Linked DNA regions of Homo sapiens. The protein of the gene in region 1 interacts with the protein of each later gene in a pairwise test. Each region holds a gene or a part of one and is shown on either strand. Other genes may lie near its edges.

Region 1 (5,419 bases):
AAGTCATAACACTGAAAATAGAAAAGAACCCAAATCAAATGTCAGTGACTGCCATTACAGTAAGAAAGATGGTGTCAGAGGAGACAGAAAACACTGGCAGGGCGGTGGACTATGATGACACTTGGACTCTCCTGCTGGTTCCACTGGCACTATCCTGACATTAGAGCAGTCTCCTTGAGGCTTGACAGCTTTGGGTATAATGATCTCTACAGTGCCTTCCAAATTTGAAATTTCCTATTTATTGTTCATTAAATTACTTGGCAGGACCTCAACTAAAGATGCTTGATTTTTCCCCATGAAACACACTCTGGTGGCTTGCAGAGTGGACAATTTGCTAAGAAGCAAAACTGGAGCTGCATTAAGCTGTAACAGATCCAGCCAATTAGGCCAAACAAGTTCCTGAGACCACATGTGCTCCAAGCTGTCTTCTTTAACCTACAGATTATTTTTGGGTTTTGAGTCTCCCCTTTAATTACAAAAGTAATAGGGGTCTGTTGCTAATGTTTCAAATAGCAGAGAGGGAAACAAGTAAAAAGCTTCCACAAATTCTTACCTGAAGCTTGGCAAAAGCTGAACCCAGAGGTTGCTGCTGTTGTGGTGGCAGCTGAGGTACCACCAAAGACAGAGCCTCCCTGTCCAAAGCCAGGACTCTGCCCAAAAGCAGGAGCGTTGCTTTGGCCAAACAGCCCCCCTCCTGTGTTGGGAGAAGACTGTCCAAATGAGAAGGAACTGGAGCTACTGGTACTTGAGGCGGCACCAAAGACACTTCCACTGGTGGATGTGGGAGTGGAGGAAGCAGGCTGACCGAAGGCAGGCACGGAACTGAACCCAGGCTGACTGAAGGAAAAGACACTTGCAGCACTGCTCGCCGACTGCCCAAAGACTGAGGCCTGCCCGAAGGTTGTCTGTCCAAAGACCCCTGGGGCTGTGGTACCAAAAGCTGGGCTGCTAAACCCTGAGCTGCTGACCTGTGGTGTGGCAGCTGCTGTGCTGGCTGTGCTACCAGTCTGCTGCCCAAACAGACTTGGTGCGGTGCTGGCTGCCACTTGCCCAAACACGGGCGTGGCAGAGGGGGCAGTGGCTGTGTTGTTGGTGAGCTGGTTGAAAGCTGAGCTAGAACTGGCAGCAGGAGGCTGAGCAAAGACGGATGAGCCAGAAGTGACGGTACCAAATGCTGCTGCCTCTGCAGATGGGCCGGGAGCAACAATGGACGTGGTGCTGGAGGCTATGGGGGTACTTGATGTTTCGACGGCCACAGGGCCTGCACTTGAGATAGCAGCTGCTGTGACAGCAGTCTGCCCAGGCACAGAAAAGGAGGAAGCAGGTGGTACTGCCTCCGTCCTGGCATCAGGGACCCCCGTGGTGGCTGGGGTAGCCTCTGCAGAAAGTGCTACAAGACTAGTACTAGATGCTGCAGTGCCAGAGTTGCTGACTGCAGGCTGGGCAAGAACAGGTTCTTTTTTAACAGAGTCAGAAGTTTGCGGAGGAGCCTGGGGAAGCTGGGCTGACTGTTGCTCCTCTAGAAGTGAGGCTGCTGATGCTGAGACCTCACTGTCACCTGGCTTCTCAGGCAAAGCTGATGAAGTGGCCTCTTCTGTGCTTCTGCCAGCGGACATAGGCAGGGAGGGGGTAGTTGCTGAACTCAGGAGGCTACCAAATGACAATGTGGGGAATGATGTTGGAAGGGGAGTGGCAGCTGTAGTTGGTGGTGGGGCAGATGGGGGCACTGTGCTATTGGTCTGTTGGCTTCCAAATGAAAAACTAGTCTTGCCAGCACTTAGAGATGTCCCACCAAAACTGATGACCCCAGAGGATCCTGCACTGGTGACTGGCAGACTGCCAAAAACGGCAGTTGAGGAAGTGCTGGTGGCTGCTGGTGGTGCTACTGAGGTGGTGGTTGCAGAGGATGTCACAGGGGGCTCCGTGTGCTTCCCTAACACCGGGGGGGCAGTAAAATTAAACCCTGAGGGCACGCCTGACGTCTTGGTTGGCTGGGTACTAGTTAGGCTTGTGGATGAAGCCTTATTGGTTGGTTTTGTAGAATCATCTGCTTGGCCAACCCGCAGTCCTGAAAAACTTCCCAGAGTCTCTCCAGCCAAAGAACTTGGAAACAGAAGCTCTCCCAGCTTGGACGGTGGGGTTTCCAGCTTACTAGAGGTGGTGGAAAGAGCAGTTCCAGAAGGTGCCACAGGTCTGCTGCTAGATGCGGCAGGTTCTCCTGGGGTGGTGTTTGATGCGGATGTGATTCCTGAGGGAGGTGAGCTTTCAGGAATGGCCTCATAAGAAGGTTTGCTTCCCCCACCAGATGAGAATGCGTCCGGCTGGCTTGACTCTTTAGTGGAGGGTGTTGCCCCTAGCAAGAAAAAGAAATCAGAAAATGGGTTGGATTTAGCAAAAGATGACCCATTACATTTCCACTGATTGTGTTTCTAAGCCAAAGTTTCTCTCCTCCCTCTACAGAGTCAGGGTGCCTTGTTCTCACAGCAGCTTTCTCTAAGGAGGTGGAATGAGTGCTTCTCCACACAAACATCAGCTCTGAGTCGTCTGAGGTGAAAAGGAAAAAATACTTTTTTTATGACCATTAAATCACAACAAATACAAAATATCTAGAATATGTGAAATTAACATATTATCCCAAAGAGAAATAAAAAAGCCTCTTCCCTTAATTTACCCTAGCTGTGTGCTTTCCTTAATAACATCCTCAGCACAGCAATGGCCTGTGGACCTCCTGATAGACCAGGACTTGATTCAAAATGGAAGTTCTTCCTTCATTTTTATGAGCAAATAAAGTGTCAGTCCACAGAAAATCATTTTTATGTACAATTAATGGCTACTTATTAGTGCTCTACTAAGTCAGCTATTTGACAGAGGCAGTACGGTCTGGTGGTCAAGGACATGGGCTCTGGAGCTATGCACTCTGCCACTCGCTGGTTGTGTGAATCTGGAAAGGTTGCTTTACCTCTCTGAGCCTCAATTCCCCCATTTGGAAAATCTAGATCATTACAATACCTACCTTCATTGTGCTGTTACAAAGATCGCAGGAAATATGGGTAAAGCACCCATAAGGCCTGGTCAAACAACAGTGGTTAATAAATACAAGAGTAACGAGGCCGGGCGTGGTGGCTCACACCTGTAATCCCAGCACTTTGGGAGGCCAAGGCACGTGGATCACGAGGTCAGGAGTTCGAGACCAGCCTGATCAATCAACATGGTGAAACCCTGTCTCTACTAAAAATACAAAAATTAGCTGGATGTGGTGGTGGGCGCCTGTAATCCCAGCTACTAGGGAGGCTGAGGCAGGAGAATCGCTGGAACCCAGCAGGTGGGGGTTGCAGTGAACTGCAATTGCGCCATTACACTCCAGCCTGGATGACAACAGTGAGACTCCATCTCAAAATAAATAAATAAAATAAAAGACTTAATCATAAACGGATAACTGAAAGGCACTTAACAAATAGATCTGGTTTCTTTATAGGGCTTCAAATTCTTTTAAATGTTAAAAACATGCTATTGATGGATTTTTTGGCGCGGGGGGGGGGGGGGACACACAGAGTTTCACTCTTGTTGCCCAGGCTGGAGTGCAATGGCACAATCTTGGCTCACTGCAACCTTGCCTCCCAGGTTCAAGCAATTCTCCTGCCTCAGCCTCCTGAGTAGCTGGGATTATAGGTATGCGCCACCACGGCTGGCTAATTTTGTATTTTTAGTAGACACGGGGTTTCTCCATGTTGGTCAGGCTGGTCTTGAACTCCTGACCTCAGGTGATCCGCCTGCCTCGGCCTCCCAAAGTGCTGGGATTATAGGCGTGAGCCACCGCGCCCAGTCTATTGATGGATTTTTAACAACATGCATGGGATGAGTGTGTTTGCTGGTATGTTATCAAGGAAAAAAACGAGTTTGGTCTTTCATTTCTACAGTCTATCTATTACCATGTCTATCTTGCCCTACAGAATCACCCTATAAATTGAAGAAATTTTAAATTACAGACAAAAAATGGAGAAATTTTAATTCACATGTTAACATTTAAATGTTAAAGCACAGCCCTGATTTTCTAGAAGCAAATCCTTTCCTTGTCCTTAATTATAAAAATAGAAATCCTTCACATCAGTTTCTTAAATTAAGCATATTTCTAATGCACATTATCAACACTGAGCTTATTGCAGATACTGTAAGTAAGATTCAGGAACAAGTCAAATACTAACATGTGGGCAAAAATAACCTGTACTTATTTAGAGAAAACACATGAGTAATGCTACTCAACACAGAGTCTGTACCTTGTGCAGCAGTGAAATTAGAAGACGGTGTTGGTGTGATTATCCCAAAATTAAAGCCAGTCCTAACAAGTGGAAAAAGAGAAATTAAAAAGGAACAAACCAAGGCACAATATTGCCCTCTTAATATTCCATTTTATCATTCATTCATACAAACCGCCCTCAGGAATTTACAATCTAGAAGATAAATGACAACAGAGTCAAAGCACCTATCTCAGAAGCAGTAAGGCCACTCTATGATCTCTAAGCAGAGAAGCAGTTTGTGTGTGAGATACGACAGGGATAGCAGTTGAGAGCCCATTGGGGGATGGCTGGGCTTTCTGTAGCAGAAGTTTGAGTGGGGACTTCTTGCAAGATGAGCAAAGCTGCAGCAGTAGAGACACATGACAAATGTGCATGTGGGAATGGTGGCCGGAGCAGATGGTCTGTTAAGTGAGGGGACAGAAGGAAGGTCTGGTAAGACAGAAGCACTTAAGACTAGGGAGAGCCTCTCAGAACCCCTCCAAGACCAACAAGCATGTCAGAGAGCCCCACACTGCTAGGGAAAACAATGGATACAATGAAATAGAAGCCCTAACTCAGTCATTTTGACAGAACTGAGTTTTACGGCTAGGAAAATCTAGTTCAAAAACTTTGTGACTCCTTTCACCATCTCCTCTCTCCTTTTGTACGTTTTCTTTACACTGTAAGTGAAGACACCATAGCTAAGGAAGAAAATCCCACGCGAGTGTGAATCAGAACAGATTATTCACTGTGATAAAAACTCAGGCCAGGCATGGTGGCTCACATCCCAGCATTTTGAGAGGCTGAGGCAGGTTAATCCTTTGAGCCCAGGAGTTTGAGACCAGCCTAGGCAACATGGTGGAACCCTGTTTCTACAAAACAAAAACAAAAACCCAAAAACCAAACAAACAAAAACAAAAACCCCCAAAAACCAAAACCGAAAAATTAAAAAACAAAAATCAGCCAGGTGTGGTGGCGCGCACCTGTAGTCCCAGTTATTCGGGGGGCTAAGGCAGGAGGATCACTTCAGTCCTGGGGGTGGAGGTTGTAGTGAGCCATGACTGTACCACTGCACCTTTTTTTTTTTTTGAGACAGAATCTTGCTCTATCTCACACACACACACACGCAAAGTTCAAATTGCAGA
Region 2 (3,898 bases), on another chromosome or scaffold:
CCACACTAAAGTCTAGAGCCCATGTGACTAAGTCACTCAGGAATCCCTAACTGTAGCGTGCTGCTGACTGTAATCTCAAAAGTTACACGTTACACTGAAGATCTCTCCAACTTGCACATAAGCCCCAGCTATCTTTGTTTGCCTAGCCCAGTGCTAACAAATTAAGTGCTTAGAAACTGTTGAATGAACAGAACTACCGAGTCTCTCTCAATGAGGCCCAATGTCAATGTCACAGGAAATCACTTGGCACGCACAGCGTGTATCTCTCTCAGTCTTCCTTCCCACTTCAGTGAAGACACTGGAAACTGAGACCTCAGATGGGAACTGTCATTCTGCCAACATGCTCTCCTAGCGGCTCCCATGCCCATCCCACCTGCATGCCTACAACACACATCTGCCCCCGAATGTGGATGCCGCCTCCTCTCACACCTTCTGAAAATTGTACCATCAACTGTGTCGTTTCAAAATCTCCCTATTATCTACTTCCCCTCAGCTTGCAAACTCATGTCTCTTCCATTTAAAATACTCTCATTTCAATATAATGTCCAGTTCCCCTTAACCTATTCTTTCTCGCCATCCCTTTAGAACCAGCAGTCTTTAAACAGCAGTTGAAAACACTAGTTCCCCTTCCATAGCTCCCATTTACCTTTTTGGACAAGACATGGAGACGATATCTGGAAGGTTGTAAACTTTAACTTTTTATTATCAGTGTGAAATCTACACACTACTGGGCTATACACTATGTAACCAGTATCCAGGTCAAGAATCAGGACACTGCAGGGGGCCTCAGGGTTCCCATGCGACCTTCCCTGGTCATAGCCTTTCACTCCCCAGAGAAGTAGCCGCTACTCTGACATTCATAATATCATGTCTTTGCTTTGCTTTATAGTTTTCCTATCTATGTATTCACTCCTAGGCAAGACTGTTTAATTTTACCTGTTTCTGAAATTGATATAAATGGGATTTTGGGGTTTTTTTGAGATAGGGTCTCACTCTGTTGCCGAGGCTGGAGTGCAATAGTGCGATCACGACTCACTGCAGCCTTGACCTCGTGGGCTCAAACAATCCTTCCTTCTCAGCCTCCTGAGTAGCTGGGACCACAGGTACATGCTACCACAGTGGCTAATTTTTTTTTTTGTTTGAGACGGAGTCTCACTCTGTTGCCCAGGCTGGAGTGCAGTGACATGATCTTGGCTCACTGCAGCCTCCACCTCCCAGGGTCATACGATTCTCCTGCCTCAGCCTCCTGAGTAGCTGGGATTACAGGTGCCCGCCACTACACCCAGCTAATTTTTTTTTTGTATTTTAGTAGAGACGGGGTTTCACCACGTTGGCCAGGCTGGTCTCGAACTCCTGACCTAGTAATTCGCCTGCCTCAGCCTCCCAAAGTGCTGGGATTACAGGCGTGAGCCACCACGCCTGGCCTCACCTAGCTAATTTTTAAATTTTTTTGTAAAGGGTCTCACTATGTTGCCCAGGCTGGTCTCAAACTCCTGGCCTCAAGTGATCCTCCTGCCTCACCTGACAAAGTGCTGGGATTATAGGTGTAAGCCACCATGCCCAGCCTACATGGGATTTTATTATGTATTTTCCTTGTTCACTTTTCTTTTTTTTTTTTTTTTTTTGAGATGGAGTCTCACTCTGTCACCCAGACTGGAGTGCAGTGGCATGATCTCAGCTCACTGCAACCTGTGCTGCCCGGGTTCAAGCAATTCTCCTGCCTCAGCCTCCCGAGTAGCTGGGATTGCAGGTGTCTGCCACCATGCCTGGCTAATTTTTGTAGTTTTTAGCAGAGATGGGGTTTCACCATCTTGGCCAGGCTGGTCTTGCACTCCTGACCGTGTGATCCACCCACCTCGATCTCCCAAAATGCTGGGATTATAGGCGTAAGCCACAGTGCCTGGTTTCACTGTTCACTTTTCAAGCTGGTACAGTTTGCTATCCTTCTCATTCCCCACCAAGCGTTTTCCCTGTGGTCCTCTGTATTGCCAAACCTAGATTATGTCTATTTCTTAGTGTATGCTATTTGTCTCATGTCTGTGTATACTCCATGTCTAACAGAGTGCTTATGAGATATCTAGTAATTGATGAACAGAATAAAGGGAGGTATCTAGAATACCTTCCAGGTTTCTACTGGGGATAACTGGGGTGATATGGCACCCTTCAGAAAAATGGGACACAGGAGAGAGAGCAGATTTGGAAAGACAGAAGATGAGTTAAGGGGACATCTGGAGTTTTATGTTCCTATAGGATATCCAAGTGGAGGAGCCCAGTAGGCAGCTGGGTATGTGAATCTGGAGTTCAGAGTGGTCTGGGCTAGGGCGATATGGATGCGGGAACTGTCAGCACTGAAGCCATGATTACGGCAGAAGTTACTCAGGAAAGGACCTAGAAAGAATAGAGAAGACCCAAGGAAAGAGTTGTGAGCATTACTTATAAGCAGTGAGTAGAGGCAGAGGAACCCGCCCAAGAAGGAAACTTGAGAAAAGGGCTGCTGGCGGGACTGAAGGAGAACCTGGAGGGACAGACGTCAAGGATGCCAAGGAGAATGTGTTTCAAAGAGGAGACATGGGCAACCACATCAAATAAACACAGCAATGCAGTGAAGGGCAGACACAGTCTCTGCTCTCATGAAACATATACATTCCGGTAGTGGCGACAGACATTAAAAAAATGCAAATATAAATAGTGTAATATGTGCTACAATGGATAAGAGAATAGGAGAGCCCCAAGTTAGACTGGGGAGTCAAGGGTGTTCTCTGTGAAGAAGTGACATTAAGATCAGAAAGAAGGGTAGGAGTTAGCCAAGAGAAGACAGCAAGCTGGGGCTGGGGCTGGGGCTGGGGAAGGACCTTCCAGTCAGGAAACAGTATGTCGAGTGGCCCTGGAGAGGAGAAAGCTTCTGATGAGCAGGACACTCTTAGGGGAGAAGTATCACGTCTGCAACTTTCAAATGACTCAGCAGTGAATACTGTGGATGTGAGTGTAACGGATACAAACGTATCTGAACTGCTGAAATGAACAATTGTTTTCTGATATACAAGGGAGGGAGAGTCCTTACCTGCAGGGCAATGGCTTCGTACAAAGGATGTGTTCAACAAAGCATTTCTGTTCTGTAGAGAGTTCCTGTAAACTATCCTTATCTTCTTCATCTACCATGGAAGACATTACATAAATGAAATGATGCTTAGACAAGTCTCCAAATTAAAATGCTAATGATATTGGGTTAAATGCAGTGAGGTTCTTGTCTGAAAACATTGCTTCTCAAGTACTATGCTTTTCTGACATAGGCATACGCTTTCCCAGGGGGTCTAGATTTCCGCCCCAAGAAGTAGGATTTTCCTTCGTAATGTCTCTGAATGCAAAAATGTTTCACTAAGAACAGTGAAATCATTCTCTTCTAGGGTGCTGCTTACCCACACTGATTTTATTTTCATAAAGGTTGAGTATCCTTTATCCAAAATGCTTGGGATCAGAAGTGTTTTGGATTTCACATTTTTTTTTTGGATTTTGGAATATGTGCATTATACTTAGTAGTTGAACATCTCTTATCTGAAAATCTAAAATCCTAAATGCTCCAATGAGCATTTCTGTTGTCATGACAGCACTCAAAAACTTTTGTAGCTCACTCAGGTTCAAGGATGGAAAAAAGAAAAGTTTTGGATTTCAAATTTTTCAGAGTAGGGATACTCAATTTATAACAGCTTTATTTTTTTTTGGATGGAGTCTCCCTCTGTTGCCCAGGCTGGAGCGCAGTGGCCCAATCTCTGCTCAATGCAACCTCCGGCTTCTGGGTTTAAGTGATTCTCCTGCGTCAGCCTCCTGAGTAGCTGGGACTACAGGTGGACGCCACCACGCCCAGGTTTTAGTAGTAGACAGGGTTTCACGGTATTGGCCA

The links.
Region 2: the proteins of NUP214 (region 1) and NUP88 interact in binary tests that used the Homo sapiens proteins (3 or more experiments, as listed by UniProt).

The regions. Positions count from the first base shown.
Region 1 is NC_000009.12:131,194,150-131,199,568, reverse strand, and holds part of NUP214 (nuclear pore complex protein Nup214), read right to left. Parts: intron 4,337-5,419; coding exon 4,275-4,336; intron 2,354-4,274; coding exon 554-2,353; intron 1-553. UniProt on the Homo sapiens protein: Part of the nuclear pore complex. Has a critical role in nucleocytoplasmic transport.
Region 2 is NC_000017.11:5,391,830-5,395,727, forward strand, and holds part of NUP88 (nuclear pore complex protein Nup88), read right to left. Parts: intron 3,153-3,898; coding exon 3,062-3,152; intron 1-3,061. UniProt on the Homo sapiens protein: Component of nuclear pore complex.